7 linked regions of the Homo sapiens genome follow. The protein of the gene in region 7 purifies or fractionates together with the protein of the main gene of each other region. This does not show direct contact. Each region holds a gene or a part of one and is shown on either strand. Other genes may lie near its edges.

What was found.
Region 1: the proteins of SPR (region 7) and LACTB2 fractionate together in Homo sapiens (co-fractionation; one large-scale study listed by BioGRID). This does not show direct contact.
Region 2: the proteins of SPR (region 7) and QDPR fractionate together in Homo sapiens (co-fractionation; one large-scale study listed by BioGRID). This does not show direct contact.
Region 3: the proteins of SPR (region 7) and GRHPR fractionate together in Homo sapiens (co-fractionation; one large-scale study listed by BioGRID). This does not show direct contact.
Region 4: the proteins of SPR (region 7) and TAGLN2 fractionate together in Homo sapiens (co-fractionation; one large-scale study listed by BioGRID). This does not show direct contact.
Region 5: the proteins of SPR (region 7) and CLIC4 fractionate together in Homo sapiens (co-fractionation; one large-scale study listed by BioGRID). This does not show direct contact.
Region 6: the proteins of SPR (region 7) and POLDIP2 fractionate together in Homo sapiens (co-fractionation; one large-scale study listed by BioGRID). This does not show direct contact.

The regions. Positions count from the first base shown.
Region 1 is NC_000008.11:70,652,186-70,655,685, forward strand, and holds part of LACTB2 (endoribonuclease LACTB2), read right to left. Parts: intron 568-3,500; exon of another isoform or gene 326-567; intron 1-325.
Region 2 is NC_000004.12:17,502,091-17,505,590, forward strand, and holds part of QDPR (dihydropteridine reductase), read right to left. Parts: intron 2,386-3,500; coding exon 2,289-2,385; intron 1-2,288. UniProt on the Homo sapiens protein: Catalyzes the conversion of quinonoid dihydrobiopterin into tetrahydrobiopterin.
Region 3 is NC_000009.12:37,421,520-37,425,550, reverse strand, and holds the start of GRHPR (glyoxylate reductase/hydroxypyruvate reductase), read right to left. Parts: upstream 2,801-4,031; coding exon 2,718-2,800; intron 707-2,717; coding exon 576-706; intron 1-575. UniProt on the Homo sapiens protein: Enzyme with hydroxy-pyruvate reductase, glyoxylate reductase and D-glycerate dehydrogenase enzymatic activities. Reduces hydroxypyruvate to D-glycerate, glyoxylate to glycolate, oxidizes D-glycerate to hydroxypyruvate.
Region 4 is NC_000001.11:159,917,611-159,920,059, reverse strand, and holds the end of TAGLN2 (transgelin-2), read left to right. Parts: intron 1-224; coding exon 225-399; intron 400-683; coding exon 684-786; intron 787-1,118; coding exon 1,119-1,260; 3' UTR 1,261-1,949; downstream 1,950-2,449.
Region 5 is NC_000001.11:24,748,447-24,751,946, forward strand, and holds part of CLIC4 (chloride intracellular channel protein 4), read left to right. Parts: intron 1-3,500. UniProt on the Homo sapiens protein: In the soluble state, catalyzes glutaredoxin-like thiol disulfide exchange reactions with reduced glutathione as electron donor. Can insert into membranes and form voltage-dependent multi-ion conductive channels.
Region 6 is NC_000017.11:28,347,528-28,351,027, forward strand, and holds part of POLDIP2 (polymerase delta-interacting protein 2), read right to left. Parts: intron 3,266-3,500; coding exon 3,239-3,265; intron 3,037-3,238; coding exon 2,911-3,036; intron 1,972-2,910; exon of another isoform or gene 1,636-1,971; coding exon 1,556-1,635; exon of another isoform or gene 1,506-1,555; intron 803-1,505; exon of another isoform or gene 705-802; coding exon 590-704; 3' UTR 1-589. UniProt on the Homo sapiens protein: Involved in DNA damage tolerance by regulating translesion synthesis (TLS) of templates carrying DNA damage lesions such as 8oxoG and abasic sites.
Region 7 is NC_000002.12:72,886,077-72,890,207, reverse strand, and holds the start of SPR (sepiapterin reductase), read right to left. Parts: upstream 2,801-4,131; 5' UTR 2,776-2,800; coding exon 2,472-2,775; intron 1,895-2,471; coding exon 1,604-1,894; intron 1-1,603. UniProt on the Homo sapiens protein: Catalyzes the final one or two reductions in tetra-hydrobiopterin biosynthesis to form 5,6,7,8-tetrahydrobiopterin.

The sequences.
Region 1 (3,500 bases), on a different chromosome or scaffold from region 7:
TGAGGACTGAGGCAGATTTTAACCTTCTATTTATGCAACTTTCACTGAACAAAACTCTTAAGTGCTGTTATTTATATAGAGTTGAACTCTGTCAAATGTCTTTTCACTAGCTAGCTTAACAAAGGTTTTGCTTAAAATATTACATGTTAATATTGAAAACAGTTGGGCTTTTCTGACTTCATAAAAGTGGAAATTGAAAACCACATTCATCAGGAAATTAAATGTTTTATCCAGGCTTTAGCTTAATGAGAATTTATATTTTGAGAAAAGATTATTTACTACTAGTCATTTTTAAAATGTGTCTGTTTTTGATTCTTTTTGTCAGTTTTCCCCTTAAATCTTTACACAGATTCCCATCAGAGTACAGTAAAACAAAAATTAAATAGAATTCATATATTTGAAATCCTTGGCATCAATTCACTCCAGGAATCCAAGACAGTACTCAACTGAAGGGGAAGCAAGCACAAGGGAGATTTCTGGGACACTGATACTGTTCCGTTTCTTCATCTGAATGCTGCTTATGGGCCTTGTTCAATTTGTGAAAATTCATGACTTTGTACATTTATGGTATGTGATCTTTCCTGTTTATATATTATACTTTGATAAGAAGTTTTAAAAAAATGACCTGTTCCACCTGGATGGCAGTTAACATCCAACAGCTGCATATCTTTAATCTGGTAAATTAGGTATAGCTCTAATGATTACCCATGATTCTATGTGATAAACCAGTACTGTGATTCCCAAATCTTCGAGACAGAAGATTCAATAAACCATCTCTACCCCTTTCATTAACTTGGTCTAGGGCTGGTGTGCTATGGAGGAAATTTCAGTATTGTGAAGAATACTTTTTGAGCAAGTAGTAATATAACATTTGTTTTCCTTTGGTGTCATGGGCGAATTATATAACATGCTATTATATTTTCTTGCTCTTTCTTACTATTTTCTTGCAGAGTCTTGCTCTGTCACCAGGCTGGAGTGTAGTGGCACTATCCCAGTTCACTGCAACCTCTGCCCTCACAGGCTCAAACAATCCTCTCACCTCAGCCTCCCAAGTAGCTGGGACCATAGGCACACACCACCATGCCTGGCTATTTTTTTTGTATTTTTGGTAGAGATGGGGTTTCACCATGTTACCCAGGCTAGTCTCAAACCGCCTGCCTTGGCCTCCCAAAGTACTGGGATTACAGGTGTGAGCCACCGCACCTGGCTATATTTTCAACAAAAGCATTATAAGGAAACTGCCTAGAAACTACATTTTGAAAATCACAGCACAGTAGAAAAAAGGGGGCACCAATTTAAAAGAGGACATGGACATCTACTACTTCATTTTCTCTTACTCATCTGTTTGTCTATTTGCCTCTTTAAAGATATTAACTATATGTAAGATAAATATTCAGTGCCTTCTGTGTGCTAGAGGTGAGGATGTGAGGATGAATCTGGTATCTGCCTATATCAGAGAATGGCTATCTAGTTACTAAACCCATTTCCTCTATTTTGCTGGGCATACAGTTAATTTCCCAGACACCCTACAGTGAGGGGTGACTTATGACTGAATTGACAGCCAATGCAACAGAAGACTTGGTCCATGAAAACCTCCCATGCAATATCCCTTCCATGCTCTTTTCTACCTGCTGGATTGATCGAGCTGAGCATGCAACCTTGAAAAAAAAAGCCTTCAGGAGGGTAGAGTCACAAGATGGAAGGAGCATACATCATTACTTGCAGAGGGCCACTGGCTAACTGGGAACCTTTTTGGGACTGTATGGGACCAAGAAATAAATTTATTTCCTATTTGAGCCGTTAAACATTTCTGAGTTGTTTTGCTATGGCAACTGGCATTAACTAATATTGTGAACTTAAGGAGCTGACTGCTTTTTAAGGAGACACTTACCCCCCTCCACAAAACCACAATACAACTTAGTAAGTGCTATTATAGAATAAAATTTATACAAAAGCTGGAGAAGAGCAGTTAATTTTGCCCAGAAAGCGTTCTTGATATAAGTAACATGTGAACTGGGCTTTGAAGAATAAATAGATAAGAATTTACCAGGGAGACAAGTAGTGGAAAGGGGTGATATAAACAAAAACATAAACAGGCATAATATGCCCAGGAATATTTGTATATGGCTAAGTGTTTTTGTGAGGGGAGTGGGAACTAAGACCAGAAAAGTGGCCTGGGGTCAGACTGTGGTATGGTAAAGAGAATAAACATTATCTTGTATGCAGCGAGAGTCATTAAAGATTTCAAGTAGCACAATGAAGGATGGTAGGCTAAAGGGGAGAGCTGGAGACAGTAAGATAAAGGAGGAAGTACTGGTAGTGGATGTGAAGAAGGGATAGCACTGACAAATATGTGTGTGTGTGTCTGTGTGTATTTACCTATTTTTTTTTTAGAGATGGGTTTCTACTTTGTGGCCCAGGCTGGAGTACAGTGGCTATTTACAGGCTCCATCCCAGTACTGATCAGCATGGGAGTTCTGACCTGCTCTGTTTCCGATCTGGGCCAGTTCACCTCTCCTTAGGCAACCTGGTGGTCCCCAGCTCCTAAGGTCTGAGCGGTCACCATACTGACGCTGAATTTAACATGGACATGCAATTGGCATAGTACACTACAGCCAAGAACTCCTGGACTTAAGTGATCCTCCTGCCTCAGCCTCTTGTGTGGCTGGGACTACAGGCATGTGCCACTGTGCTCAGCTGACAAATATATTTTTTCCATAAGTTATTGGGGTACAGGTGGTATCTGGTTACATAAGTCCTTTAGTGGTGATCTGTGAGATTTTGGTGCACTCGTCGCCCGAGCAATATACACTGTACCCTATTTGTAGTCTTTTATCCCTCATCTCCCTCCCACCCTTCCCCCCAAGTCCCCAAAGTCCATTGTATTGTTCTTATGCCTTTGCATCCTCATAGCTTAGGTTCCACATATCAGTGAGAACAAACAATGTTTGGTTTTCCATTCCTGAGTTACTTCATTTAGAATAATAGTCTCCAATCTCAACCAGGTCACTACAAATGCCGTTAATTAATTCCTATTTTTTTTTTTTTTTTGAGAGGGAGTTTCACTCTTGTTGCCCAGGCTGGAGTGCAGTGGCACAATTTCGGCTCACTGCAACCTCTGCCTCCCAGATTCAAGCAATTCTCCTACCTCAGCCTCCCAAGTAGCTGGGATTACAGGCATGCACCACCATGCCCGGCTAATTTTTGTATTTTTTTAGTAGAGACAGGGTTTCATCATGTTGGCCAGGCTGGTCTCAAACTCCTGACCTCAGGTGATCCACCTGCCTTGGCCTCCCAAAGTGCTGGGATTACAGGTGTGAGCCACCATGCCTGGCCCCGTAATTCATTCCTTTTTATGGCTGAGTAGTATTCCATCATATATATATACCACAGTTTCTTTATCCACTCGTTGATGGATGGGCATTTGAGTTGGTTCCATGATTTTGCAATTGCAAACTGTGCTGCTATGAACATGTGTATGCAAATATCTTTTTTGTATA
Region 2 (3,500 bases), on a different chromosome or scaffold from region 7:
TGGCCAATAAATTTTACAAAATAAACCTGGAGTTTACTGATTTGCTGGACTGGCTTTAATTCAAAGATTGTTTTATTTTATGAATGGTATCAGATTTGTAATAAGAACCTATATGTCTACGTCAGGTTTTCTCTGTGATAAAAATCCAAGGGCCTATTACTGTACAGCTATAAAGAGAGCTTTTACTGAGCTACATATTTTATGTCTGAAAGTTTAATGTTAGCTTTAAAGACTCTTCAAAAGAAAGCTAAAATAACAACCATTTTACACTTGTTTTAACTCCCCGGCCTTGCCAGAGACATAAGGAAGAACAAATGGTAACATATGTCACACCACCAACTGGGCAACTCGAAGGGCATGTGGTACCTGGTGATCAAAAAAGGATGTCCTCCTGATATAGGAGGGGTTGGTAGGTGATAAACAAGAAATTGCATTTCCCCACTAAAAAAGACTAGGAAAAAAACCTGATGGATCCACATTTATCATTTCTTGCTCCCAAAACATACAAAAAGGTTATCAAGCTGTTTTGCTAACCTGATCACCTCACAAAGCACCACTCTCACATTGACATGTGGGTCACAGAATGTCAACGTCTTTTTAAATGGCTTTGGCTAATAAATGTAGAAGGGATGACAGAATTAGAAAACTACCATTTTCCAACCCCTGAATAAGTGCTTCAGGCAGAGATTATCAACGAAGGACTAAAACCACTGGGTGAAAAGTATAATACTTGGGAAACAGGACATTCACACACAATACCACAATACCACACATCCCACAGATGACTGACTTACTGCAAACAGAAAAAAAGTACCTTTATAATGGAAGTCTGGCAGTTGCCATCTCAACCAAGCATCAAATTTGGCATCCCTAAGGGTAGGGCAAGCTGCCATGCTGAGCTTCCCAGGTGATGTCATATAAGGTACACACCATCACTCAGGAAGAATTCGCACCACAAGAATGTTTATGCTAAATCTAACTGAGTCTCTAGACCCAAATTCCAGTTCACGGGGAATACCAAGGATAGAGGAACAAGTCAAACAACCCCTTAAAGAAAAGTTCAGACAAGTTCAGAATGTGAGACATGCTATATGAAAACTCCCAAGGACTTGACAAAAAGTCTTATCACAGGGGATTTTTTTAAAAATTCTAGATTTTCTAGATTAAGAGACTAAAAACAACATAATGCAGTACATAAACCTTGAGTGGAATATGTTTAGGGAAAAAGAACTATAATAGACATGGAATAAACTGGGGAAATTTGAATATGGGCTCAATATCATTAATCTTAGATAATCACTGTTAACTTTCTTAGGTACAATGGTACCATAATAATGTAGGACGGGCTTATTCTTTGGAGAAACACGCGGAAATATAGTGAGGTGTAAACTTATTTTCAAACAGTTAACAAAAAACAATGCACAAAGTACACAGGCACAAGAAAACAAGCTCAACTCAAGTACAGCAAATGTTAACAGTTACTGAATCTAGATGGAGCATATAAGGGTGTTCATTGAACTGTTCTTTCAACTTTTCTGGTATGCTTAGAAATGTTCATAATGAAAAGTTGAAAAATGGGCCAGGCGCACTGGCTCACGCCCGTAACCCCAGCACTTTGGGAGGCTGAAGGGGGTGGATCACCTGAGGTCAGGAGTTCAAGACCAGCCTGGGCAACATGGTGAAACCCCGTCTCTACTAAAAATACAAAAAATTAGCTGGGCTTGGTGGTGGGCACCTGTAATATCAGCTACTCGGGAGGCTGAGGCAGGAGAATCGCTTGAACCTGGGAGGCAGAGGTTGCAGTGAGCCGAGATTACACCATTGCACTCCAGCCTGGTGACAGAGCAAGACTCTGTCTTAAGAAAAAGGGTAGGGGAGTAGAGGGGAGGGGAGGGAAGGGAAGGGAAAAGAAAAGATGAAAAAAGGAATCAGCTTTAGTAAAATCTCAAGTTTGACTTCTTCTGACTTTCTAAATGATCTCTGCACTTCCTACACATCCTCCAATGCCTGAATAGCACATGGCCTGGGGCACAGGCCATGCTGATTTCATTCTGCCTCTACTTTAAACTCAAACTCAATGCCCCCCGTCCCCTCACGTCCTCCAGGGGAAGCTTCTTCTTTATCCGTAAAATGGATTAAGAGCATTAATCACTCTCTCCCCGAGCAACTGTAAAGATTCCGGGATATACACAAAAAAACAGCTGGCCTGTCACCTAGTGCAAACCCAATCCTTGTCAGCTGGAAAAAGAGCAGAGCAGAACAAATGAGTGACTCAGGAAAGGACTCACACTTGGATTTGGCATTGCCCCCGGCCCATCCTCCAGCAACGCAAAGAATTGCATCCACCTTCTCTTCACCCAAGAGCTTTCCAACCTCAGCAGTCACCTTCAACACAAGAACAAAAAAATGTATAAACTGTAAGGTAAGCCAACACAGGCTAGCATCTTTACGGATACTCAGTTTCTTTTTCTCTTCTTTTTAAGCCAGTTTACAGTACCTGGCAATTAATGCTTTGAGAATTAGACGGAAGACTAAGCTCTGATGAGCATTTTAGACATTGAAGCCCAAGTACACTTCAGTGTGATTTTTAAAAAACAATCTAGAGTCTCTGTGTATACATTCTGAAAGGTAGAGACATGAGCATCCCTTGAAATACAACAATTAATAAATAAAAGTAGGGAAAGGTTAAAAAAAAAAGAAAAAAGCACCTAGAGCTTCACTGCCTGCACATAGTTAACATCCTGGTGTATTTCTTTCCAGACTCTCTTCACAAATCACAGAATTATAATCCAAAAAGAAGATCAACCCTGTTTTCCCCACCCCAATCCAAAAATCCCTTTAACTGCAACTCTGAAAAAAATGCCAACGAAAAATTGTAAGAAAAATCATGAGCCAAGAAAAAATACAGTCAATAGCAATATGTTGGTAATATTAAGTACATGGGGGTTCACTTTAATGATCTCTCTGCTTCTGTTTGTTTGAGATTTTAAAGCATTGAAAATATATGTATGCCCTCTTGTTATAATTTATGAAAAGAACAGTCTGTCAGGACAGGCAATTCTGGCCATCCACCACGACTCTTCCGTATTTCTCTGGAATGGCTGAGATGACAAATCCCAATTGCTTCATTAAGATCAATCTTCTTAAGATTTCTTTTTTTTTTTTTTTTTTTTTTGAGATGGAGTTTCGCTTGTCTCCCAGGCTGGAGTGCGATGGCGCCATCTCGGCTCACTGCAACCTCCACCTCCCCGGTTCAAGCGAATCTCCTGCCTCAGCTTCCTGAGTAGCCGGGATTACAGGCGCCTGCCACCACACCTAGCTAATTTTTGTATTTTTAGTAGAGATGGGGTTTCGCCATGTTGGCCAGGCTTGTCTCGAACTCCTGACCTCAGGTGATTCGCCTGCCTCGGCCTCTCAGAGTGCTGGGACAACAGGACTGAGCTACCACGCCTGGCCCAATCTTCTTAAGATTTAAATCAGGCTGGGCACAGTGGCTCATG
Region 3 (4,031 bases), on a different chromosome or scaffold from region 7:
CCTCTCCTGCAAGCAGGACACCACAAAGCTTCCAGGCCAAGGCCAGGATGTGGGGCGGCTCAGCACTGACTCACAAGGGTCCCTTCCCATCTGGCAGCCTCTGAGTCTGAACCTTTTCTCAAAACTGTCACAACAGCCTCACAGGGGGAGGTTTATTCTTCCATGGGCTGAGACCCGTGGCTGCGGTTGAGGAAAGACATCCTGCTGGGGCTTGGCACTGAGCTAGGTCCTCCCTCATACTACGCACACGCCCAGAAGGGGCAGGGTCTTGCTGGAGGTCACAGAGCAAGGTTGTGGCAGGGCTGGAGAACCCAGGGCCTTGGATGCACTTCCCCACACCCACAGTCTCCACACCGCGGTCTTTGCCCTCCTAGGGTCCCCCGCCAAGGGGTTCACAGCAGGAGGGAGGGGCAGTGCCTGTGCCAGAGCAAGCTATCTGCCCGCTCGGGCCTGGTATCGCAGGAAACGCCCTCAGAACCCAGACAGCACTGCAGAGCAGCCAGGAGCCAGCAGCACAGGCTGAGGGGCCCACAGGGCCAAGCCACCCTCAAGTCCCCTGCCCACCCAGTGTGCACCTGCAGCATCCAGGATCCTCTTGTCCACGTGGTCGGAGAGGAGGCAGAGCAGGCCGTGGGCCCCCGCCACACCTCGCTCTAGCTCCTTGGCAGGGATGGGCTCATCCGAGTCCCACTGCTCCACCTCACAGCTGCGGGGAAAGGGAGGCCCTCAGGAGAAGCAGGAGCCGCACACCTGTCCCCGCCCCTCCCAGCTGGGAATCCTGGCCTCTGATGGCCCTGGCCTCAGGCTGCCCGGGGCTGGCTGAGGGGAGGCAGGGTCAGGCAGGGGTGGTCTCAGAACTGTCCCGAGACAGCAGGTGACAGGTGAAGGGCTGAGGGGCCCCCCAGCAGAGCCTAAGCTGCAAGGGGGAAGGCATGGGGACAGCTCTCAGGTCAGCACAGAGAAGAGCTTTCCCACATTCACAGGGGCTGGGCGGCCAAGCAGGCGGCCAACTGCAGGGAAGGCCCGTGGGGGGCAGGGTGTGCCTCAGGTGGGGGGCCTGGATTCAATGGCCTGTTGCATCTCTTCCTGTCCGTGGAGTCCATGAAATAGAAAACTCTCATAGTTGGACTGGGCCAGGAAAGATAAGGTCAAGGCCACCCAACGCTTCCACGGCAGCTCACAGCAACCAGATATTTGTCCCAGTGATGCACGGTGCCTCCTGGCCCTTGCCATGGAATTCAGTACAGTCAGCACGTGTGGAGCCTCTATGTGGCAGGACACAGGATAGCTACTTGCACCTCCTGACTGAGCCCAGGGCACTGACCACCTTTCATCCACCTCCCCATGAGCAGGGTACAGCGTGAGCTACTGTTACCATGGGCGCGGTTGCTGCCTTCCACCTTCTCCTGCTCAGTACAAAGTGGGTCCTTGGCAAAGGTTTTGTTGCAGTGAACAAAATTTGAAAATCTCATATGCCCCTAGAACTGGCTGCTGAGGCTGGATTGCATCCTCTTCCTATCTAACATTGGAAACACAAACCTGATCAAATGCAGTGATCAGACAGCAGTCAGACACTTCTGAGTACAAGCCCCAGCTCCTCCACCTGGGAGCTGCATGGCTTTGGGAAGAAACTTAACCCTAAGTCCAGCCTCCAGTTTTTAATCTGTGCAATGGGAATTATAATACTGACTTCACAGTGCTACCAGGATTAAAAGTTTATGTATATGAAGCACCTGGCAAGGTTGGCCCACAAAAAGGGTTCCATTTAGCAAGGGTGGGCCAGGTGCAGTGGTTCATGCCTGTAATCCCAGCACTTTGGGAGGCTGAGGTGGGAGGATCCCTTCGTACAGGAGTTCAGGACCAGCCTGGGCAACACAGTGAGACCCTCGTCTTTGAAAAAAATAAAAAATTAGCCAGGCATGGTAGTGCATGCCTGTAGTAGTCCCAGCTACTTGGGAGGCTGAGGTGGAAGTATCTCTTGAGTCCAGGAGGTTGAGGCTGCAGTGAGGTATAATGGTGCCACTGCACTCCAGCCTGGATGAGAGTGAGACCCTGTCTTAAAAATTAAAGGGTCCTCAGGCCAGTCATGGTGACTAACACCTGTAATCCCAACACTTTGGGAGGCTGAGGCAAGAGGATTGCTTGAGCCCAGGAATTTGAGACCAGCCTGAGCAACAGAGTGAGACCCCCATCTCTACAAAAAAAAAATCAGAAAATTAGCCGGTAGTGATTGTTTGCGCCTGTAGTCCCAGCTACTCGGGAGGCTCAGGTGGGAGAACTGATTGGGCCCAAGAAGTCGAGGCTGCAGTAAGCCACGATCGATCGAGCCACTGCACTCCAGCCTGTGCAGCAGAGTGAGACTGTCTCAAAAAAAAAAAAAAAAAGATAAGTAAATATAAAGAAGAAGAGTCATCAAAGCCCCCTGCCAAACGTCCAAGGGCCTGGTCAGTGACCGCCATGTCCCTGACCCCACATGTCCTGTGGGAGCGTGGAGAATTAGCCTGGACCTTGCCTCAGGGGCAATCTCCCCTCTCCAAAGCCGGAACTGCAGGTCCCAGCGTCGTCTTAAGAGGAGAACTGGGCCCCAGAGAACTTTCTCCGAGACTCCCCAAAACTCCAAGCCTGCCCCAGCCGGCCACAAGGCCCAAACGCCCCGCCCGGCTCTCCGGTCCCTGGGACCGCCCTGCTCCCTCCTCCACGGCGCGCGAGGCTCTTACTCTGCCGCCCGGGCGAGCGCGACCCTACCCTCGGCGGGTATCCTGCGGGTGACGAACACCTTCATGAGTCGCACCGGTCTCATCCGCAGTGCAGCCGCCGACCCGGACCTGGCAGTACAGAAGCTGGCCCGGGAATGTAGCTGGGCCGGGGCGGGGCCAGGCTGGAGTGGGCGGGAGAGACGTCGCGCGCGGCGTGCGCAGGGGGTGTGGCTTCGCGAGAGGGAGCGCCGGGTTGCGGCTGAGCGGTGACTGTGCGTGCTCGGGGAGTGACAGTAACAGTGACCCTACACAGTGTCCTTGTGTGTGTGTGGGGGGGTGCGCCTCGTGCCACTGGGGAATCAGGGCCCCGGGGGAGAGGGGGCAGTATCCCGTCCAAGGCCTCATGGGAGCCCTGCTTTTTCTACACGCTCAGGGTCCTGTTTCCACAGGCTCAGGCCTTAAGAGACTGAAAGCCCCCACTTTTTCTGTCTCTTGGGTTGGCCCAGGGTAGAAACCCAGGTTCCAGGCTGTGAGGAAGTCCAGGACACACAGAGAGGTCACGTGTAGGTGTTCAGGCCAACAGCACAGCCAGGGGCCCGGCTCACAGCCACCGTCAATGACCAGAGGTATGAGTGAGGAAGCCTTCGGGTGACTCCAGGCCAACTCCCACCTGACTACAGCTAAAACTGCAAGAAAGAGCCTTTAGGAGAATCACTGGCTGAGCCCAGTCAACCCCGGAACCATAAGAGATGATAATGCACTGACTGCTGTTGCTCTAAGCCGTTCAATTTTGGAGTAATTCTTTATGCAGCAATAAATAAGTGATACGCTATGTGTGCGAAAGCCAGAAGCCATAAGAGTACAACTAATTCTCCATTGAAAAATTAACCGTACCATCCTGAATGCATCTGATCTTGGAAACTAAGCCTGGTTAGGGCTTGTATGGGAGACTGCCTGGAAATACCAGGTGCCTGGAAATACCAGGCTTATGTTTATCTTAAAAAAAAAAAATTAACAAAATCATAAGACAACAAACCGGGAAAAATACCATATATTTGCAACTCATTTTATAGACAAGGGGTTGATTTACTTATTGCACAAATAGTTCCTAAGACAAAGATGCCCAGCTTATCTGAATAAGCAAAGGATATCAATGGACAGTTTATAGAAAAGAAAATGGCCTTTAAATGTATGGCTGGGCGCGGTGGCTCATGCCTGTAATCCCAGCACTTTCGGAGGCCGAGGCAGGCGGATCACTTGAGGTCAGAAGTTTGAGACCAGCCTGGCCAACATGGTGAAACTCTGTCTGTACTGAATATACAAACATTAGGTGGG
Region 4 (2,449 bases), on a different chromosome or scaffold from region 7:
GTATATTAGCAAGGAAAGACTAAACACTGGCTTTTCACTCTGGGCTCGGAGGAAGGAGGCTGGCAAGAAGGACTGTGAGGCTTACTCTAGTGAAAGAGTCCAAGCTGTCTTCAGGCAAGACAGGAGCCTCTCTGGTTCATTGTCTCTGGTTCTGAGGGTGGTGCACGCTGAGCTGCGATAGGTAGGCATATTCTCACCTTTCCACCCCTGCTGTCCTCATCCAGGTGCTATGTGAGCTCATTAATGCACTGTACCCCGAGGGGCAGGCCCCAGTAAAGAAGATCCAGGCCTCCACCATGGCCTTCAAGCAGATGGAGCAGATCTCTCAGTTCCTGCAAGCAGCTGAGCGCTATGGCATTAACACCACTGACATCTTCCAAACTGTGGACCTCTGGGAAGGTGGGACAGGGCGAGGGGCTGGGTCCTGTCATCCAGGAGGCCAGAGATTGGGCTGGGCCCTCTTGACCAGGCAGAAGGGGCTGTTTTCTGGCTCCCTGCAGAGAAAGAGGGGTGTGTTTGTGTTCCATGGAGCACTTGGTCATATTGGAGGCTGGAATGGAGAAGGGTATGGAAATGAACAGTAGAAATAATTAGGAAGCCAGGCCTGCTGACTTAGCGATAGAGGCGGAACCCTGGTATCTAGGACACTGCGGAGGCTGACACATTCCCATTCTCCTTCCCAGGAAAGAACATGGCCTGTGTGCAGCGGACGCTGATGAATCTGGGTGGGCTGGCAGTAGCCCGAGATGATGGGCTCTTCTCTGGGGATCCCAACTGGTTCCCTAAGTAAGTATTGCTGGGACAGCCGCAGGGTCCAGCAGGTGCATTGTTTCTGCCCAATCCTGTCCCTAGGAAATAACTTATCTCAGTAGCAGCTGGCCCTTTACAAAGCACTTTCAGAAAATTCCTCATCTCACTTAATCCTCACAACACCCTCTGGGATGGCAAATGACTGTCCCTTTGGACAGATGAGGAGGTGGCTTCAGAGAGCTTATGGCTCTCGAGGGCAGAGCTGGCACCAGCCCTTGAGCCAACAGCAAAGCCTGTGCTCTGTCCAAGGAAGGGATTTACTAGGGCAGCCTGTGATCTCCTCTAACCACCACTCCCTTGTCACCCAGGAAATCCAAGGAGAATCCTCGGAACTTCTCGGATAACCAGCTGCAAGAGGGCAAGAACGTGATCGGGTTACAGATGGGCACCAACCGCGGGGCGTCTCAGGCAGGCATGACTGGCTACGGGATGCCACGCCAGATCCTCTGATCCCACCCCAGGCCTTGCCCCTGCCCTCCCACGAATGGTTAATATATATGTAGATATATATTTTAGCAGTGACATTCCCAGAGAGCCCCAGAGCTCTCAAGCTCCTTTCTGTCAGGGTGGGGGGTTCAGCCTGTCCTGTCACCTCTGAGGTGCCTGCTGGCATCCTCTCCCCCATGCTTACTAATACATTCCCTTCCCCATAGCCATCAAAACTGGACCAACTGGCCTCTTCCTTTCCCCTGGGACCAAAATTTAGGGGCCTCAGTCCCTCACCGCCATGCCCTGGCCTATTCTGTCTCTCCTTCTTCCCCCTGGCCTGTTCTGTCTCTGAGCTCTGTGTCCTCCGTTCATTCCATGGCTGGGAGTCACTGATGCTGCCTCTGCCTTCTGATGCTGGACTGGCCTTGCTTCTACAAGTATGCTTCTCCCACAGCTGTGGCTGCAGGAACTTAATTTATAGGGAGGAGCCTGTGGCAGCTGCTGCCCCAGCCACAGCTGCACTGACTGTGCTCACCACACATCTGGGGCAGCCTTCCCTGGCAGGGGCCCTCGTGGCTTCTCATTTTCCATTCCCTTCACTGTGGCTAAGGGGTGGGGTGAGGGGATGGAGAGGGAGGGCTGCCTACCATGGTCTGGGGCTTGAGGAAGATGAGTTTGTTGATTTAAATAAAGAATTTGTCATTTTTGAATGGACTCTGGCTGTGTCTGGGGCCACTGTGCCACTGTGGGGAAGGGAGGAATACTGGGCAAAGTGCAGTGAGTGATACAGGAAGGAGGGCAGAGATGAGAGGTTGCAGTGCTAACCCCTGTCTTGAGTTTCCTCCCCATCCTCATTCTCACTTGCTTTGGGGGGTGGTGTAGGTTGGAATTGAGAGGGGACAGGACCTCACAGCTGAATGCAGACTATGTAGGCAGTGTCCACAGGGAAGTAAGGCCCTTTCTAGTCAATGGAATTGGCTAATCCTGCCTGCTGCCTTTGGCTGGGTCTGCCTCTACAGTTGGAACAGCTTCTCAGTCACTGAGAGGGTGGGGCTGGCTGCTGGCACAGCCATCAGTCCTGGCAAGTGAAGCTGTCTCCAGGTGAGAGGTCCCTCAGGCGGGCTTGGGGTGAGGTGGTCTGTGTTGGAGTGGTGAGGGTGGGGGTTGCAGTGGTGAGGAAACGTGGAGAGCTGGGGAATGAGCAGGAGTG
Region 5 (3,500 bases), on a different chromosome or scaffold from region 7:
ACCCAGTGATTCAACATAGGCAAACTTTGCACTGATACAGATCAGGTTTTTTGTTTTTTTTTTTTTTTTTTTTTTTAATGAGATGGTGTCTCGCTCTGTCACCCTGGCTGCTGGAGTGCAGTGGCGCGATCTCGGCTCACTGCACCCTCTGCCTCCCAGGTTGAAGTGATTCTTCTGCCTTTGCCTTCCGAGGAGCGCATGCACCACTACGCCTGGCTGATTTTTGTATTTTAGAAGAGACTGGGTTTTACCATGTTGGCCAGGCTGGTCTCAAACTCCTGACCTTAAGTGATCTGCCTGCCTTGGCCTCCCAAAGTGCTGGGATTACAGGCTTGAGCCTCTGTGCTTGGCCCCTAGACCAGTTTGTTTGAAAGGGGAAAAAAGGACAGGTAAAATGTGGTAAAGGGCATTCTTGATCTCTTCTCAAAACCTACGTGTGGGAAATGCAAATGGGGGAAATACCCTTGTAAATATAGTTATTTTGAAAGCAGTGGACCAGGTGTGGTGGCACACTCCTGTAATCCCAGCCTTTTGGGAGGCGGAGGGGGGTGGATCACTTGATGTTGAGACCAGCCTGGGCAACATGGCGAAACCGCATTTCTACTAAAAATACAAAAATTAGCCACGCATAGTGGTGCATGGCTGTAATCCCAGCTACTCGGGAGACTGAGGCAGGAGAATTGCTTGAACCTGGGAGGCGGTGGTTGCAGTGAGCCGAGATAGTGCCACTGCACCCCAGCCTGGGTGACAGAGCAAGACTCCATCTCAAAAAATAAAAATTAAAAAAAAAAAAAAGAAAGTAGAGAGGGTGCAGAGGCTGTGGTTGTCCAGAGTGGTATGTTGAACAGTGTTAACCTGCCAAGAGGTATCTGAGTTTGTAAAAGAAAACTATTTACAGTTGAAGCACATAGCATGTATGGAAATTAGAAATTTGGTGGTGGCGCTAGGGGAAAGGCCAAGAGATGTAATGGGGCTTTGAGCCTACCTGTCTAGCTAGCACTGAGCTTCACATTTAAGAGAGAGAGATGAGCACCTTCTCAAATAGTATGACTGAACTCACAGCTGCATTTCCTTCCTTGTGAGTAGTTTTTGGAGTTGTCTGCCTGTGAGCCCATTAACTCCCTGTCATCTATATAACAGCAGGATGGTTTTTTTGGTTTGTTTTTGTTTTGTTTTACCCTCAACATCTGGAGGATAGATAGGATGCCCTCTCAAAAGTAAAAAAGGCAGCTGGGCTGTGGTGGCTCACGCCTGTAATCCTAGCACTGTAGGAGGCCAAGGAGGATGAATCTTTTGAGCGCAGGAGTTCTAGACCAGCCTGGGCAACATGGCGAGACCCTGTCTCTACAAAAACTATTAAAAAAATTGCCAGGCACAGTGGCTCACGCCTGTAATCCCAGTACTTTGGGAGGCTGAGGCAGGCGGATCTCTTGAGCCTAGGAGTTCGAGACCAGCCTGGGCAACGTAGCAAAACCCCATCTCTACAAAAAATATAAAAAATTAGCTGGGTGTGGTGATACATGCCTGTGGTCCCAGCTGAGGTGGGAGGATTCCTTTAGCCTGGGAGGCAGAGGTTGGCTGTGAGCCGTGATCGTGCCACTGCACTCCAGCTTGGGTGAGACCCTATCTCTAAATAAATAAGTAAGTAACTAAGCTGGGCCTGGTGGCCCACGCCTGCAGCCCTAGCCCTAGAGGCTGCGGGTGGGAGGATTGTTTGAGCCCAGGAGTTCGAGGCTGCAGTGAGCTTATGATCATGTACCTGCACTCCAATCTGGGTGACAGAACAAGACCCTGTCTCGGGAGGAAAACAACAAAGGCTTATAATGGCAATCATCCTCAACAGTGGAGATGCTCTCTACCCCACTCAGGAGCCTGGTAGGTGTATATATTTCCAGCTGGGAACCACCAACAGATACGGTATATTTGAGACCTTTTAGCAAGGGCATAAGGTCCCTTGTAATCTGGGTTTCTTTCTTTCTTTCTTTCTTTCTTTTTTTTTTTTTTTTTAAGACGGAGTTTCGCTCTTGTTACCCCTCAGCCTCCCGAGTGGCTGGGACTACAGGTGTGCACCACCACACCTGGCTAATTTTGTATTTTTAGTAGAGACAAGGTTTCTCCATGTTGGTCAGGCTTGTCTCGAACTCCTGACCTCAGGTGATCAGCCTGCCTTGGCCTCCAAAAGTGCTGGGATTACAGGCGTGAGCCACCGAGCCTGGCCTACTGCCTGAGTTTCTAATCCAATATGTCCAGTTACTAATTGTGTATCCCAGGATACATCACTTAAACCTGTCTGTGCCACATCTGCACAGTTGGGATATTAGTAGAACAGTCCTATGGGATAAATTAATATATGTAGTATGCAACAATCTTAGAACAATGTCTAGTACACAGTAAGCAAATAAATGCTAGTTGTGTATAATTTTGTATGAATATATATTTATAGGCAGATCTCCCCTACTAGATAGACAGTAAATTCCTTGAGGATAGGGTGTGCATATGGTTCAGAGTGCCTGCAACTTAAGAGGATGCCAAATGTTTGAAATGAGATTGTGCCCTTCTTTCAGAGAATTCTGTTGTTGAGCATTTTGTTGTCAATGTATGTCTCTACCATGCTTTGGAATTAGAAACCACTTACTGAGATCCCGATGGTTGGAGCATCAAAGCATGGTTCTTCATCCTGATTTCTCTAGCCTCCAGTCTCCAAACCCAGTGTAATTTTATGTACTCACCTCTTTTTTTTCTCCATTTAATACTTCCAGTCTTTTTTTTTTTTTTTTTTTTGAGATGGAGTCTTGCACTGTTACCCGGGCTGGAGTGCAGTGGCACGATCTTGGCTCACTGCAACCTCTGTCTCCCGAGTTCAAGCGATTCTCCTGCCGCAGACTCCCGAGTAGCTGGGGTTACAGGCACCCGCCACCATGGCCAGCTAATTTTTTGTATTTTTAGTAGAGATGAGGAGCTAATTTGTATTTGTAGTAGAGACGGGGTTTCACTATGTTGGCCAGGCTGGTCTTGAACTCCTGACCTAGTGATCCACCCGCTCGGCCTCCCAAAGTGCTGGGATTACAGGCGTGAGCCACCGTGCCAGTCTTTTATATATTTACTAGTGTTTCTTCTTGGCTATGTCCAGAATTTGGGGAACCAAGATTTTTGTTTGGGTAAAACTAAATATTAACTCTTGAACCACAAATGAGAGTAATAGAGATGGGGTTTCTCCATCCAGCTTGGCCAACATGGCGAAACCCCGTCTCTACTAAAAATACAAAAATTAGCCGGTCGTGGTGGCGGGCGCCTGTAATCCCGGCTACTCGGGAGTCTGAGGCAGGAGAATCACTTGAACCCGGGAAGCGGAGATTGCAGTGAGCCGAGATTGTGCCATTGCACTCCAGCCTGAGGGACAAGAGCAAGACTCTGTCTCAAAAACAATCAAATCAAAAAACAGAAAGTAATCCCTTTGCGGAGTTCAGTTTTATGGGCTGGAATTTAAACTTGTTGTTGTG
Region 6 (3,500 bases), on a different chromosome or scaffold from region 7:
CACTCCGACCCTGACACTGGCCTCCCTCTCTGCATTTGGCAGAAGGTAAAGTGAACAAGAGTCCAGTCCAGCACCCCCGCCAACTAGCTGAGAGGCACAGTGACCCTAGGAGATGTCCAGCCAGCCTCCAGGCTGAGAGGGAAACAGGCACATGCCCTACCAGGGGGGCAGCTCCCTGGAAGGGCAGCAAAGAAAGCAGTCAAGGGCGCACACTGGGTCAGAAGGGGAGCCTGAGACTCTGGGAGCAGAAATGGCAAGGGTGGCCAAGCGTGCACTGGTTTACTGATCAAACCTCACGTGACAGGCCAGGAAACTCCTCCAGGCCTGTGGCAGCTGAACACAGTTCCTTGGTGGAGAGGTTTACTGGAACATGGTGTAGGCAGGGCTTATGAGGAGGCCAGCCTTGGAGGTGTCCCACATGGGTCTTCTGAAGAAAAGTTATACCACCCCTCCCCACAAAAAGAACCCCACAATCAAATTAAGAGACCCACTGTGGCCCATGATGGGGAGAGAAGAGTTCTGCAGCAATTGTGGGATGAGAGTTGTTCTTCCCGGTGACCAAGCCTGGGCACTTGGGGCCTCAGCTGGCCTACCAGTGAAGGCCTGAGGGTGGTGTCTTCTCATCTTTATTGCTTTCCAGGGAGAAGGGAGGAATCCGAACATCAAAGTGGGAGCCATCAGGTCTTTCAAAGCGGAACGTGCCCCTACAGTCAGAAAGAAGCTGGTTTAGAAGGAGCCAGGGCTGAGGCCTCCTAAGGATCTGGATGGCCCCATGCCCTCAGCTGCCAGCCACAGAGGACATGTGAGCCTGAGCTCTCTTCTATCTCTAGCTCATGACAGGATGACTGGTCCAGAGACCCAAGAGCCCCTCATGGTTATCCATGAAAAGAAAAACACAGCTGCAGTGGCTCACGCCTGAAATCCCAGCATTTTGGGAGGCTGATGCCAGCAGATCACCTGAGGTCACCTGAGGTGGGGAGTTTGAGACCAGCCTGACCAACATGGAGAAACCCCGTCTCCACTAAAAATACAAAATTAGCCGGGCGTGGTGGCGCATGCCTGTAATCCCAGCTACTCGGGAGGCTGAGGCAAGAGAATGGCTTGAACCTGGGAGGCGGAGGTTGCAGTGAGCCAAGATTGTGCCATTGCACTCCAGCCTGGGCAATAAGTGAAACTCCATCTCACAAAAGAAAAAAGGAAAACACAGCTGTCCAGATTCTGGCCTTTAGATACATACTGCATAAGCTAGCCAACTGCATTTTCAGGTAAAGGAGTGAAACACCAAGGGAAAAAACCCAACTATACAAGCAATTCTGCAGCATCAAATCACCAGACCTCTTTAGCCTAAGTCCTCAGTCCACAAATCACAGGGTACTGGGAAACAGGCGGTAATAGAAAATCAGACAAGTCCCACACAACAATATAGCAGATAAGGCTCCCTCTAAGAATGTAACTTGGCCCAGAGTTAATGGCAAGCTCTAAGCTCTCACTTTTCTGACCTACAGCTTCTGTTTGTGGAGCTGGGTGGCCCCTACTGCTGTGCACACTCACTCACCACATGTGCCCACTGGAAGCCTGCAGCGAGACGTGGCTGCTATACTGGAACGCAGGCTGCTCCTTGGATAACACTGGTTCCTGTAAAGGTTTAGGCAAAATGGGTCAGGCCAAGCCCCAGGGACATGTTTCCTGCACCCCAGGGTTACATGCTGACTGCCAGTTCATCAAGACTGGATGTCCCCTACCCAGCCACCACCACAGCAGGCACTCCCATAGCATGATACACTTCCTGCCAGTACCTCCTCCCATAGATGGCCATTTGGCTGGGCCTTTTATGCTGGCTCTGGGAAAGATAATCTCAGACTGAATGTCCGAAGGCACTGGGCAAAGGACCTCCTCTGCAGCCCGGGGAACACAGTGAGACCCCATCTCCACAAAAAAAAAAAAAAAAAAAAAAAAAATTTAAACTAACCAGGCATAGTGGTGTGTGCCTGTAGTCCTGCTACTCAGAAAGCTGAGGCGGAGGATTGCTTGAGCCCAGAAAAGTAAACTATGGTCGCACCACTGCACTCCAGCCTGGGTGACACAGCGAGACCCTGTCTCTAAAAACAAAGGACCTCCTGTGGAGATATCCCCTCCAGTGTCCATTCACACATGCTGGCGGGGACCACGGCAGGTACTCTGCAAACCTCTGCTGCTTTAATTCTCCTAATGATCATAAGATAACTGGTGTGATCCACATTTTAGGAGTAAGGAACTAAGATTTTGGTTAAATAACTTGCCGAAAGTTATGCTAATATATAACTCAGCTGGAATTTGAAGTGACTACCTAAATCCAAAGCCTTGTTCTTATTCACTTGCCCAACTGCCTCCCCAGTCCTCGCTGACTTTGATAAATGCTTGTTGAATGTGGCCCCTGACACCAGTACTGCTTGTGACTTTATTTCTCAGGAGACAGGGTTGGGTAGGCAGGGATTATAAAATCAGATCTCTTCAAGGACCAGCAGAGGATGTAAACATGTAAAGGGGCAAAGAGGCAAGACCACAGGGATTGGTGGGGGTGTGTGCCCCACCTAACGACATTCAAATTTTAGTTTTTAAAAGACACTATACCAGTTTTAAAAACTACACAAGTTTTGACTTCAGACTCACTTGGGTTTAAATTGAGGCCCTGCCACTACTAGCTATGGGACCATGGGCTGGTTATTTAACTTCTCAGTCTCACTCTTTTCATCTATGAAATGGGTTTCAAGAAACATATCTCATGTAGTTGTTTTAAGATTTCTAACCCAAAACAACACAATGTATTCACAAAGTGAGCCTCTGTCTATAACAACAAAGGAGAAGGAAGCCATGCGCTAAGCCCCCAGGCTTGCCACACAGGACCAGAATTACTAGACCAAGGATGCTCACCCTGCCCACTACCCCTCGGCCTCGCACTGTCTCCAAGGTGCCAGAGAGACTGAATATCCTCCAGTGCCGCTCCCGGAGCTGTACCACATCACTGTCAAGGTTCTCCAAACGGATACAGTAGCGCCACTGAGGTGGGTGTGGGAGAGAGAGTTTAAAAAAAATAAAATTTGGGTAACCCTCCTCAGAATTCTGTGCAAAGCAAAAGTCAACAAAGCTGACACATGCACTGCACAGGTTCCGCTCTCGTCAGAAGGTGGGCTCCCCCACCTCCACCCTGACCCCCAGGCACACCCCACAAGCTCCCCTTCTCCCAGACAGTGACACTCACCCAGTACACGTGGGAATTCTGGGCTTCCTAGGGAGAAAACAAAAAGAATTTAAGTCCCACAGGGCAAGACCAAGTGTGTTCCAATCAACATCTCTCCAGTGCAGTTGATGTATTCCAGGAAGGTTGCAGACAGACCAAGCTGAGAGTATCTGTGGGATAAGGGTGATAGCTGAACCATGGCCTACACACCCACAGGGAGGCAACATCCCTGTATCCACTCCTGGCCTCCCCACTCCTCATCCCTTCAAGATCACCAACAGAG
Region 7 (4,131 bases):
GACCTGCCACGCCCACAGTGAGCCTTCGCACCTTTATTTCCTTTCATCAGGAATGCCTTCCATCTGCCAACAACCAAGGTCAATGTCCAGTTCAGCTACCTCCAATAAAGCCATCTCTAGTCTCCCCACCTAAAGGAATTGTTCCCTTCTTGAACTGTTGCAAGCACGTTCTATTCTTCACATAGGAATCACTCATGCACCCCAATATTTGCAGTTAATGGTCCTCGAGGGCAGAACATCAGAGAATTCCAGGGTTGGAGGGAGAATTTATCTCCTGGTCCTTGACTATTTTCCAATGACCTGTGCATCCCTGCTGAGAGAGGACTTGCTGCCTTTCCAAACAGCCCATTCCATCTCTGAGCACCTGTTAGAACATTCTTCCTGAGACCGAAATGAAAACCAGACTGGCCTCTGCCTTGGTTCAGGCCCTGGGGACCTCCTGAAAATCTCAGCTCCCTCATAATGCCCAGGGCAGCCTCCTGAGACCAAACGCAGCCATGTGGACTTCTGGAGTCTGCTCTGCTCCTGGTTGTAGCTTACATTTGGTCACTGTTGTTTGTGCGAATCCTTGGGCTGAATTCAGAGTGGATGATGAGTTGAATGTTGGTTGTGAGAATAATTGTGCATGTGTGTTGGGGGGCAGGGGTGGTAGGGGCTGGGGTACTGGAGAACATGAGGAAGAACTTGAAAGCAAGGTGGGATCCAGCCCTGCCACATCTGTGCTTTGTGCAGGCCATTCTACCTGTCTGCCCTGGGAGCCTGACCCTATTCCCCAGGGACACAGGCTACTGGATTTCTGCCCAAGTTGCTCAGGCTTTCCATGGCTGCTCTGTCACCACCTTCTGATTGCAGCAACCTCAAGCCTAAAAGAGACTCCTCACTATTAAGACAGGGGCGCTGTGGCATCAGAAACTAGACCCAGTATCACAAGACTCCCTGTCCTTTGGCGTTCATGAGAGCAAGGGATCTATTCTATTTATCCCAGAATCCTCAATAGTGTTCCAGCACAGTTCAGCCAGGGATGGTCAGCACTCAACAAAGTCTGTCTGCTCTCCATACAGCTAGCATGTCCTGCAGCTTGCCTTAGTGTAGTGCTTTGCTAGGTGTTAGGAACACACATCTGCATAGTGCAAAGGCTTTCCTGTCAAGGGAGGGAAGGAGGCAAGCAAACATATGCAGACAATACAGTGTGGTCAGTCCTATTTAACAATGAGGCAACACTTCACAGGTCAGGGTCATTTTCACATACAGTATCTCATTCAGTCTTCCCAAGTGCCCTGTGAGGCAGGGAGCGTCTTCCCCATTTCACATGAGGAAGGCCTGGAACTCAAACCCCAGTCTTCTCCCAAACTCCATCTAATACCTCAGACCTTCCTGCCCCACCCTCCAGTCCAGGAAACTCCTCACTCTCTACCAGTATCCCCGGCCCCTGCCACCTCTATTTCCCCTGGGTCTGTATTTCCCCTAAGGGGTGATGGGTCAAGATTCAAGGACAAAATCCTGTGGGTTGTTTCCTGGAGGGGGCGGACTAGGCCGCTTGCCCAGCCCCCAGAGGCGCACCAGTGGGTTCTGGAGGACAGGGACGGCAGGACTTCCCACCTACCTGGGGCATAGTTCAGCACCCTCACATTAGGTTCCTCCAGCGCCAGGACCTGGAACAGCATATCACGAGCAGCCTTTCCTGCACAGTACAGCGCCCAGCCTTTGAAAGGTTGCAGGGCACAGAGGGACGAGATGTTAACCACGGTTCTGTTGAGGCCAGGACTGTCCGGGAAGGCCTTCAGGACGCTGGAAGTCAGGCAGAGCATGGAGGTCAAGTTCAGTGCCCAGTAGTTGTTCACTTGAGTGGAGTCACTCAGGTCCACGAAGCCTTTGGACACATCCCCAAGAGAGCCTGAAAAACCAACCCTTAGGAGTAACTCAGTGCAGGCGGGGCTTTCTTCTTCCCCAGCCCTCCCAAGTTCCTCCAGATATCCTCTTCCCATGCAGACCTAGAGGAGGAAGCTGCCTAGCGCTTCTGAAGAGGCTTCTCTCTTCCCCAGCTCTGCGGAAAGACACAGCTGGGGAACCTAGCCATCCCAAGCTGCAGAATGAGAAGGCACCTGCCTTGCCGTGGGGCTGAAGGAAAGCTCTAGCGGTCCTTTGGAGAAGCAGAGAGTTTACTTGTTTGGAGACTCCAAGCCCTGACTCAGGCCTCCGCCAGAGGGCGCAGAGCAAGGGGCTCGGGAAAGTTCTACAGGCGCTTTGGAAAACCCGGCTGGCCAATTTTCCAGGAAGTGGGGGCAGACTGTTGTCCCGACGGCACCGAGTCTTCCTGTACACCTCGCCTCCACTTGCTACTCAAGCTGGAACAACTAGGGCTTTAGATTTCTAGGCGTCCTATCTGACCCCTAGGAGTAGCCCTTAAATTCCCCAGCGGTGGAGGAAGTGGGCGCTCACATGGGGAGTCCGCTCCAGCCCCGGGGTCTTACCCGCGTTGTTGATAAGCAGCAGTCGCTGCAGCCCCTTGGGCCGGGGGAGCTCGCGCAGGGCGCCGAGCAGCTGCTGCAAGCCGGCCTCGGCGCCCAGGTCGGCGGGCACCCGCACCACGCGCAGGCCAGACCGCTCGGCGCCCAGCTCGGCCTCCAGCTGGCGCAGTGCCTCGTCGTTGCGGGCGCTAAGGACAAGCACGGAGCCGGGCGACAGCAGCGAGGCCAGGAGCGGGGCCAGCGTCCGGCCGAAGCCGCGGGAGGCCCCGGTCAGCAAGCACACAGCACGCCCCAGCCCGCCCTCCATGCTCCTGTTCTCCGCCGGCGGCGCTGGCACCCGAGACCAGGCAGGAGGCGGTGCGGCCGCGGGGGGCGGGACCGCTACGGGTGTCGGCGGGGCCGCCCTGCCGGGGCGGGGCGGGAACCTCAGGCTTCGGGCCGCGAGCGCCCAGGGGTGCTGGTTCCCTTGGGATCTGGTTCCCTTGGTTGCTGGTGGCGGAAGTCAAACCGTGGCGGTAGCCCAGTCCGTGCCAAGTGGGACAACAGAGAGGGCCGGCAGGCGCGGCCCACACGGAAAGCCCTAGCCCGGTTCCCAGCGCTGCCGTGTTCTTCGCCCGCAAGCTCAGCCTCCGGCTGGGACGCATGCTCGAATTTCCTCCCAGTTCCAGCCCTAACTTTGCACTACTGACCTCTTCCAGGGCAGGCCCTGCACTGGGTGCTGGGCGTCCCTGGTCGTGGCCAGTGAACACCCTGAATGAAGCTTATGCCTGTTTAGGAATTGAAGTCTCTGCTTGTTTGGGAGCTCACCGCTCTCTGGATGACAGGAGCTTCCTCTGGGAGAACCACAGTGGCTCCAAATGATATTAAAACCTTTCCCTTTTACTAGGCCCTGAGCAGCTCCGTGATCCCACCAGTAACCCCTGCTTCTCTGAGATTTCTGACTCCTGTCCCTAAAAGTGTGTTCCCCAGGATTCTGCTCCTGCTCATGCTACAGTCTCCCTGGCAGCAATTCCATCCACTTTCAGCTTCAAGTTTGCGCAATCATCTGTCTGTACCTCCAGGCAGGTGCTTCAGAAAAATCCACATTTTTTTTTTTCTAGGAGAGGAGGAACGTGAGACAAGTTGGCATGCAGCTACATATATTAAAAAGGAATCTCTTCATGGTTTCCTTCTTAGTGGCCGAGTGGTATTCCATTGTGTATATACATATGTCCAAATATTGTGTGTCAGTTTTTAAAAAACGAATCTCTTTAGAGTTTAGCAAGGGCAGTAAGTAACCTCTGATAACTTAGCCCAATTCCCCACAGGGCTGATCCCTCCCCTGGGGCTAAACAGCAAAGTTACCGCCTTTCCACTATTATTGCCAACTCTAAGGAAGAAACAACTTGGAGGAAGGCTTTTTTCTTTTCTTTTTTCTTTTTTTTGACAGAGTCTCGCTCTGTGGCCCAAACTGAAGTGCAGAGGTGTGATCACAGTTTACTGCAGCCTTGAATTCTTGGGCTCAAGCAATCCTTCCACCTCAGGCTCCTGAGTAGCTAGGATTACAGGTGCGCACCACCACGCCTGGCTAATTGTTTTTTAAGCTTTTGGTATTTTAACGCTGATAAGACTCTGTATATGTGTATACCATTTGAAGTTGCCCTGCTTTTCACTTACCTATTCA